2 separate regions of the Homo sapiens genome follow, and region 1 is reported to be linked to region 2. Evidence: microRNA targets listed by miRTarBase, many of them from high-throughput screens and not tested one by one. Region 2 holds a microRNA gene; the other region holds the end of a gene's coding sequence.
Evidence for each region. The annotated mature microRNA hsa-miR-423-3p reads AGCUCGGUCUGAGGCCCCUCAGU and lies in region 2 at 1,307-1,329, shown strand. An mRNA with a match to its seed (bases 2 to 7 or 8) in the 3' UTR can be bound and repressed. Matches are read on the target gene's strand: a 7mer-m8 pairs with bases 2 to 8, a 7mer-A1 pairs with bases 2 to 7 and ends in A, and an 8mer does both.

Region 1: miRTarBase lists YIPF5 as a target of hsa-miR-423-3p. The part of its 3' UTR that is shown has no 7-base or 8-base seed match.

The regions. Positions count from the first base shown.
Region 1 is chr5:144,157,861-144,160,860 of GRCh38, reverse strand. YIPF5 (Yip1 domain family member 5) reads left to right here. Exons shown (of 6, transcript NM_030799.9): 6 at 302-2,699. The coding sequence ends at 464. Among named protein-coding and RNA genes, the nearest start is that of YIPF5, 11 kb to the left of the region's middle.
Region 2 is chr17:30,115,825-30,118,824 of GRCh38, forward strand. It overlaps MIR423 (microRNA 423), which reads left to right and starts at 1,255; the gene lies at 1,255-1,348. NSRP1 (nuclear speckle splicing regulatory protein 1) reads left to right here and starts at 992. Exons shown (of 7, transcript NM_032141.4): 1 at 992-1,039; 2 at 2,256-2,349. The coding sequence starts at 1,020. MIR3184 (microRNA 3184) reads right to left here and starts at 1,336; the gene lies at 1,262-1,336. RefSeq lists enhancers at 503-1,702, 735-854, 875-974, 1,005-1,104 and silencers at 817-1,418, 1,355-1,424.

The DNA of each region.
Region 1 (3,000 bases), not on the chromosome of region 2:
CAAAGATAGCATCCAGCCCAAATGTCAGTAGTGCCAAGAATGAGAGACCTTATATTTTTAAAAAGTAAAACATAGTTCTAAAAAAGCTGTTTATCCCATGAAATGATTCACCATCATTGAATTTACTGTGAGGTACATTTTAGCATTTGAAAAAAAAAATCCTGATTATTTTTGCATATGTCTACTTGCAGATTTAAAATGTAAATTTAAAATGCTTTAGAATAGGTTATTGTAGTATTCTTACATAACTAATCTCATCTGCTTTTTTTTCTTCTCCCCCCTTTTTCCTTGTTGTTTACAGAGGAATGGTAGGAATCATTCTCACTGCTGGGATTATTGGATGGTGTAGTTTTTCTGCTTCCAAAATATTTATTTCTGCATTAGCCATGGAAGGACAGCAACTTTTAGTAGCATATCCTTGCGCTTTGTTATATGGAGTCTTTGCCCTGATTTCCGTCTTTTGAAAATTTATCTGGGATGTGGACATCAGTGGGCCAGATGTACAAAAAGGACCTTGAACTCTTAAATTGGACCAGCAAACTGCTGCAGCGCAACTCTCATGCAGATTTACATTTGACTGTTGGAGCAATGAAAGTAAACGTGTATCTCTTGTTCATTTTTATAGAACTTTTGCATACTATATTGGATTTACCTGCGGTGTGACTAGCTTTAAATGTTTGTGTTTATACAGATAAGAAATGCTATTTCTTTCTGGTTCCTGCAGCCATTGAAAAACCTTTTTCCTTGCAAATTATAATGTTTTTGATAGATTTTTATCAACTGTGGGAAACCAAACACAAAGCTGATAACCTTTCTTAAAAACGACCCAGTCACAGTAAAGAAGACACAAGACGGCCGGGCGTGGTAGCTCACGCCTGTAATCCCAGCACTTTGGGAGGCCGAGGCGGGCGGATCACAAGGGCAGGAGATCGAGACCATCCTGGTTAACACGGTGAAACCCCGACTCTACTAAAACTACAAAAAAAATTAGCTGGGCGTGGTGGCGGGCGCCTGTAGTCCCAGCTACTCAGGAGGCTGAGGCAGGAGAAGTGTGAACCCAGGAGGCGGAGCTTGCAGTGAGCCGAGATCACACCACTGCACTCCATCCAGCCTGGGTGACAGGGTGAGACTCTGTCTCAAAAAAAAAAAAAAAAGGAGACACAAGACTTACTGCAAAAATATTTTTCCAAGGATTTAGGAAAGAAAAATTGCCTTGTATTCTCAAGTCAGGTAACTCAAAGCAAAAAAGTGATCCAAATGTAGAGTATGAGTTTGCACTCCAAAAATTTGACATTACTGTAAATTATCTCATGGAATTTTTGCTAAAATTCAGAGATACGGGAAGTTCACAATCTACCTTATTGTAGACATGAAATGCGAACACTTACTTACATATTAATGTTAACTCAACCTTAGGGACCTGGAATGGTTGCATTAATGCTATAATCGTTGGATCGCCACATTTCCCAAAAATAATAAAAAAATCACTAACCTTTTTTAAGGAAAATATTTAAAGTTTTACAAAATTCAATATTGCAATTATCAATGTAAAGTACATTTGAATGCTTATTAAAACTTTCCCAATTAATTTTAACTGTGTTATTGAATTTACTTTTACTAAACTACTGTTCTCTTTGTCTCTTTTTTAACTAGGCTCTGATTTTGACCCCTAATTTAAGCTTTAAGAATAGAAATCAGCTAATATAGAATCAGACAAAAAGGGGATTAAATGAGCAGTTTGAGTTACATTATTTTATTGTATTAAATTTATTTGATTTATATTGTCATGTTCTCTTGCCAGAGAGAATCTGTAGGAAAATACTGTATCTTGTATACTGATCATTGGCTTTTTCTAGAAAAACTGTCTCTGATTCTGGACAAAGCTCAGTTATAGTTACGAGAAAGATATGGTACAGGGAGGAAAATACTGCCTTTTTTTTTTTTTTAAAGAGATTTTCAGACTAAATAGAAATGTCAAAATGATGTATCAATGGTTCTTTTTTAGAACAAGTTTTCAAAGCATAAAAAGAGGTTGAGAGAAATAACATATTTATTGATTCACATAAGTATGTTTTTCTTCATTAATCGTCTGGAGAAACCCACTTGTCATTAATTTGTTTTGGGCTAGGTTTTCAAACTTACCAAATTGCTTTAAAAAAGCAATTTGGAAGGTAATTTGATAGGCTTTCCAACTTAACCAAATTTTTTATTGTAATTCTTGGATAGTATTTTTGTCTTTTTCAATTCATTTGTCTTTTTCAGTATAGTTTTTGTTAAGGCAAATGTCTTCCCTTAATATCCAAATATTGCTAATAAACGGTAGAAGATGCTTTGGAAATTAAAATTATCTCGCTGTTGGTTAGACTTAACACTGTTAATCTTCAGCCAAATATCACATATGGATCAAATTATTTTCTTTTTTGTTGTTTACCCTATCCTCAACAACATTTTTAGTTTAAATTATTGTAGAGATTTTTTTTGTGGTGGTTATTTTTTATTTTGCTCCAAAATAATAAGGTGCAAAGCTATTTTATGCTTAACTGTTGCTCTGTCAAAACAGCTATGCAGTGGAGTTGCATTTGATGTTCTAGAGTTTGATTACATGCAGAGTTGTATATAGCCAAAACTTCTCTTATCAAACTCTGTTATGTAGGCATATTTATATATACATTAAAGACTGTTGTACTGTGTCTCAAAAAGTACTATGTGGCGCTTTTTTTTTGTCTATCATTGGAATAGATTGGTTTCTTCAGTTAAGTACCAGGTAGATTACCTGCCTTGCTTTAGGCCCATTTTATACTAAAAGCATGCAGGTATCTTTAAACACTAGAGACACCATAGCTAAAAGCTCATCCAGTGATTGTCATTGAGTAACTGAAACTCATCGTGGGGGTAACAGACTGAAACACGCCTTATCTCCAAATACTGTACTTGTGAGTGGAGTGGCAAATTGACTTAACACTAGTGTGTTACTCATACATGTATACATGCCAAGATCAT
Region 2 (3,000 bases):
CAGGAGAATCGCCTGAACCTGGGAGGCGGAGGTTGCAGTGAGCCAAGATTATGCCACTGCACTCCAGCCTGGGCGACAAGAGCGAGACTACGTCTCAAAAAAAAAAAAAAAAAAAAAAAAGTATCATATATGATCCTGATTCCTATACCCAATGGCCCGTGAACAGTATTATTAATAATTTTGGTCCTTGGGCCGGGCGCGGTGGCTCATGCCTGTAATCCCAGCAATTTGGGAGGCCGAGTCGGGCGGATCACCCGAGGTCGGGAGTTCGAGACCAGCCTGACCAACATGGAGAAACCCCGTCTCTACTAAAAATACAAACTTAGCCGGGCGTGGTGGCACATGCCTGTAATCCCAGCTACTCGGGAGGCTGAGGCAGGAGAATCGCTTGAACCCGGGAGGCGGAGGTTGAGGTAACCGAGTTCGCGCCTTTGCACTCTAGCCTGGGCAACAAGAGCGAAACTCCGTCTCAAAAAAAAAATTTTTTTTTTAATAATAATTTTGGTCCTATGTAAGGTATTATTAATACACAGATTTTCATTTTTCGCCTAATTATCCTGAACCAGTTAAAGTGAACACTTGGAAGGGGGTAGGGGGAATATCGATAGCCATGGCAGTGGTTTTCAAACTTTATCAGAATTACCCGCTGGTTAAAATTCAGATAACTCGCTTCACTCCAAAGTTTCTGATTCTGCAGGTTTGGGGTAGGGCCCGAGAATTTGTCATTTTAACAGTATCTCCGGTGTTGCTGATGCCGCTGGTCCCAGAACCACACACTGCGAACAACTGGCCTAGAACGTTGTCATTCCTTTCTCCTACAGATTTTGAGGCAGCCGGTGGGCTCCGAAACAAAACAGAGGTCACTGGATCCGATTCCCAGTACCATAGAAGTGACTCAAACCAGCGATTCAACCGACAAGCAGGATCCGGGCCACCCAAAGCCGCGCGAGAGTTTACGTGACGACATCGGCGTCAGCGTCACGGAGGCGTCGGCCACGTTCAGCGGACACGGGAGCAAGATGGCGATTCCGGGCAGGCAGTGAGTGATCCGGGAGTTAGGGTCAGGCTGGGGGATGAGAAACTACGGCGACTGTATCTTTGGCCGAGGAGTTTTAAATGCGCTGGAAGTGAAGGGACTGTGTCGTCAAGGGTAGAGACGGGAAAAAACGAGAAGTCCTGAGGAACATAGATTCCCCTCCCCCGTACATTTTCCCGGATGGAAGCCCGAAGTTTGAGGGAGAAACTTGTGAGGAAATAAAGGAAGTTAGGCTGAGGGGCAGAGAGCGAGACTTTTCTATTTTCCAAAAGCTCGGTCTGAGGCCCCTCAGTCTTGCTTCCTAACCCGCGCTTGAGTTTCTCCCCGCTTGGATGCTCTCAGGGGCAGTGTGAAGAGAGACAGTTCCTGGCTTCCTTAGAGGGCCTTGTTCTCCTTGGCAGAAGCTCAAGTCCTGATTCCCGCCCTTCCTTCTCGTTTTAGGAATATTGTTCTGAGAAGCCACAGAAAAAGGGTAGGCATATAGGAAATTGGGGTATACGTTGCCGCAAAAGAGACAAATACTGTACGTACTTGAAAGTTTTACCTTTGATGTGTAATCCTTACTTTTGATGCGGCCTCCCGTGATCTCCGCATCTTAAAGGCCAAAACGTGAGAAACTAAAGGAGTTGGATCTGATGGGATGGTTCTCTCAGATGCTCCGAGGCAAAGCACATGATCTTAATAAAGTGTAATGCGAACTTGCCCCATGGCTACTTGGGTTTCTCAGTTATCTTTTAAAAATTTTCGTGAGTTACACTATCCAGTCAGTTCTTAGAAACTGTGTAAGTACACAGTAGGAAAAAAAATCTAGCCATTTTCTTGACTGTTTAGACCACAAGGATAGTTGAAAGCATTTTAAAATCTTTAGTGGACATGAACTAAACTTTCCACTACACATGTTTTTTTTTTTTTTTTTTAAATGTTACTGTCACTTCGCCATCTTAAAACATTTCTGAACTTTTCATTTACTTCTCTTCTTTGATAAAAATGGTATTCGAGTTTGGCCCGTGTCCACAAATGATCACTTAGAGTAGTAATTATAGAATCTTACGGCATGTTAGAATTTTGAGATCACTGAGAAGCAAAAACAGTCTGTTACGTGTTCATAAAGCTTATGACATGTTTTGATTTGGTAGCTTCATGTGGAAGAGGTAGTAGATGTATTTGTTAACATTTAAACATAAAGGTTTAATTTCTATTTCAAAAAAAATATATGCAGGTATGGGCTTATTTTGCCAAAGAAAACACAGCAGTTGCACCCTGTTTTGCAAAAACCATCAGTGTTTGGGAATGATTCTGATGATGATGATGAGGTAAGGAAACCTATGTTTTACTCGTGCATGGTTGGAAATGTAAATTTTTTAAAAATTGAACTTGTGACTCTGATACCTTTGCCTTTGTTATTTGTCAGTACAGTGGAGTATAATTTACAGAATTGTCAAAAAGGAAGGTGTAAAGAAAGCAGCTCCACCGATTTTTTAAAGATTTTTTTCCCTCTAAAAGCTGCAAACTTTACCTTTAAACAAATACACGGTCTTTTCAGACTACTGAAATTGTCATAACAAAATTGTTGGTGTAAAGATCCCTAGGTATGAGTTATTAAGATGTCACCAATTTTCTACAAATTTTTATTAGCAAAGCAGTTTTTAATTTGTTAACCATGAGCTAAGATCACTATATAACAGTTCTTAACAACGCTACTTTTTTTTTAAATTCAGTGTCTGCCAAATGTAATTGCTCAGTTATAATCGTGGTAGTGAATAGTTACTCTTGATAGTACTACAGTAACATCTAATATCAACATTTTCTATTTTAGCAGCCAAAACTACTTCTGTGAAACCCACAGTTATATATCAGAAACAATCCCAAATGTGTGCTTTTCTTTTCTCTTTTTTTTTTTTTTTTTGAAACAGTGTCTTGCTCAGTTGCCCAGGCTGGAGTGCAATGCCGCGATCTCGGCTCAC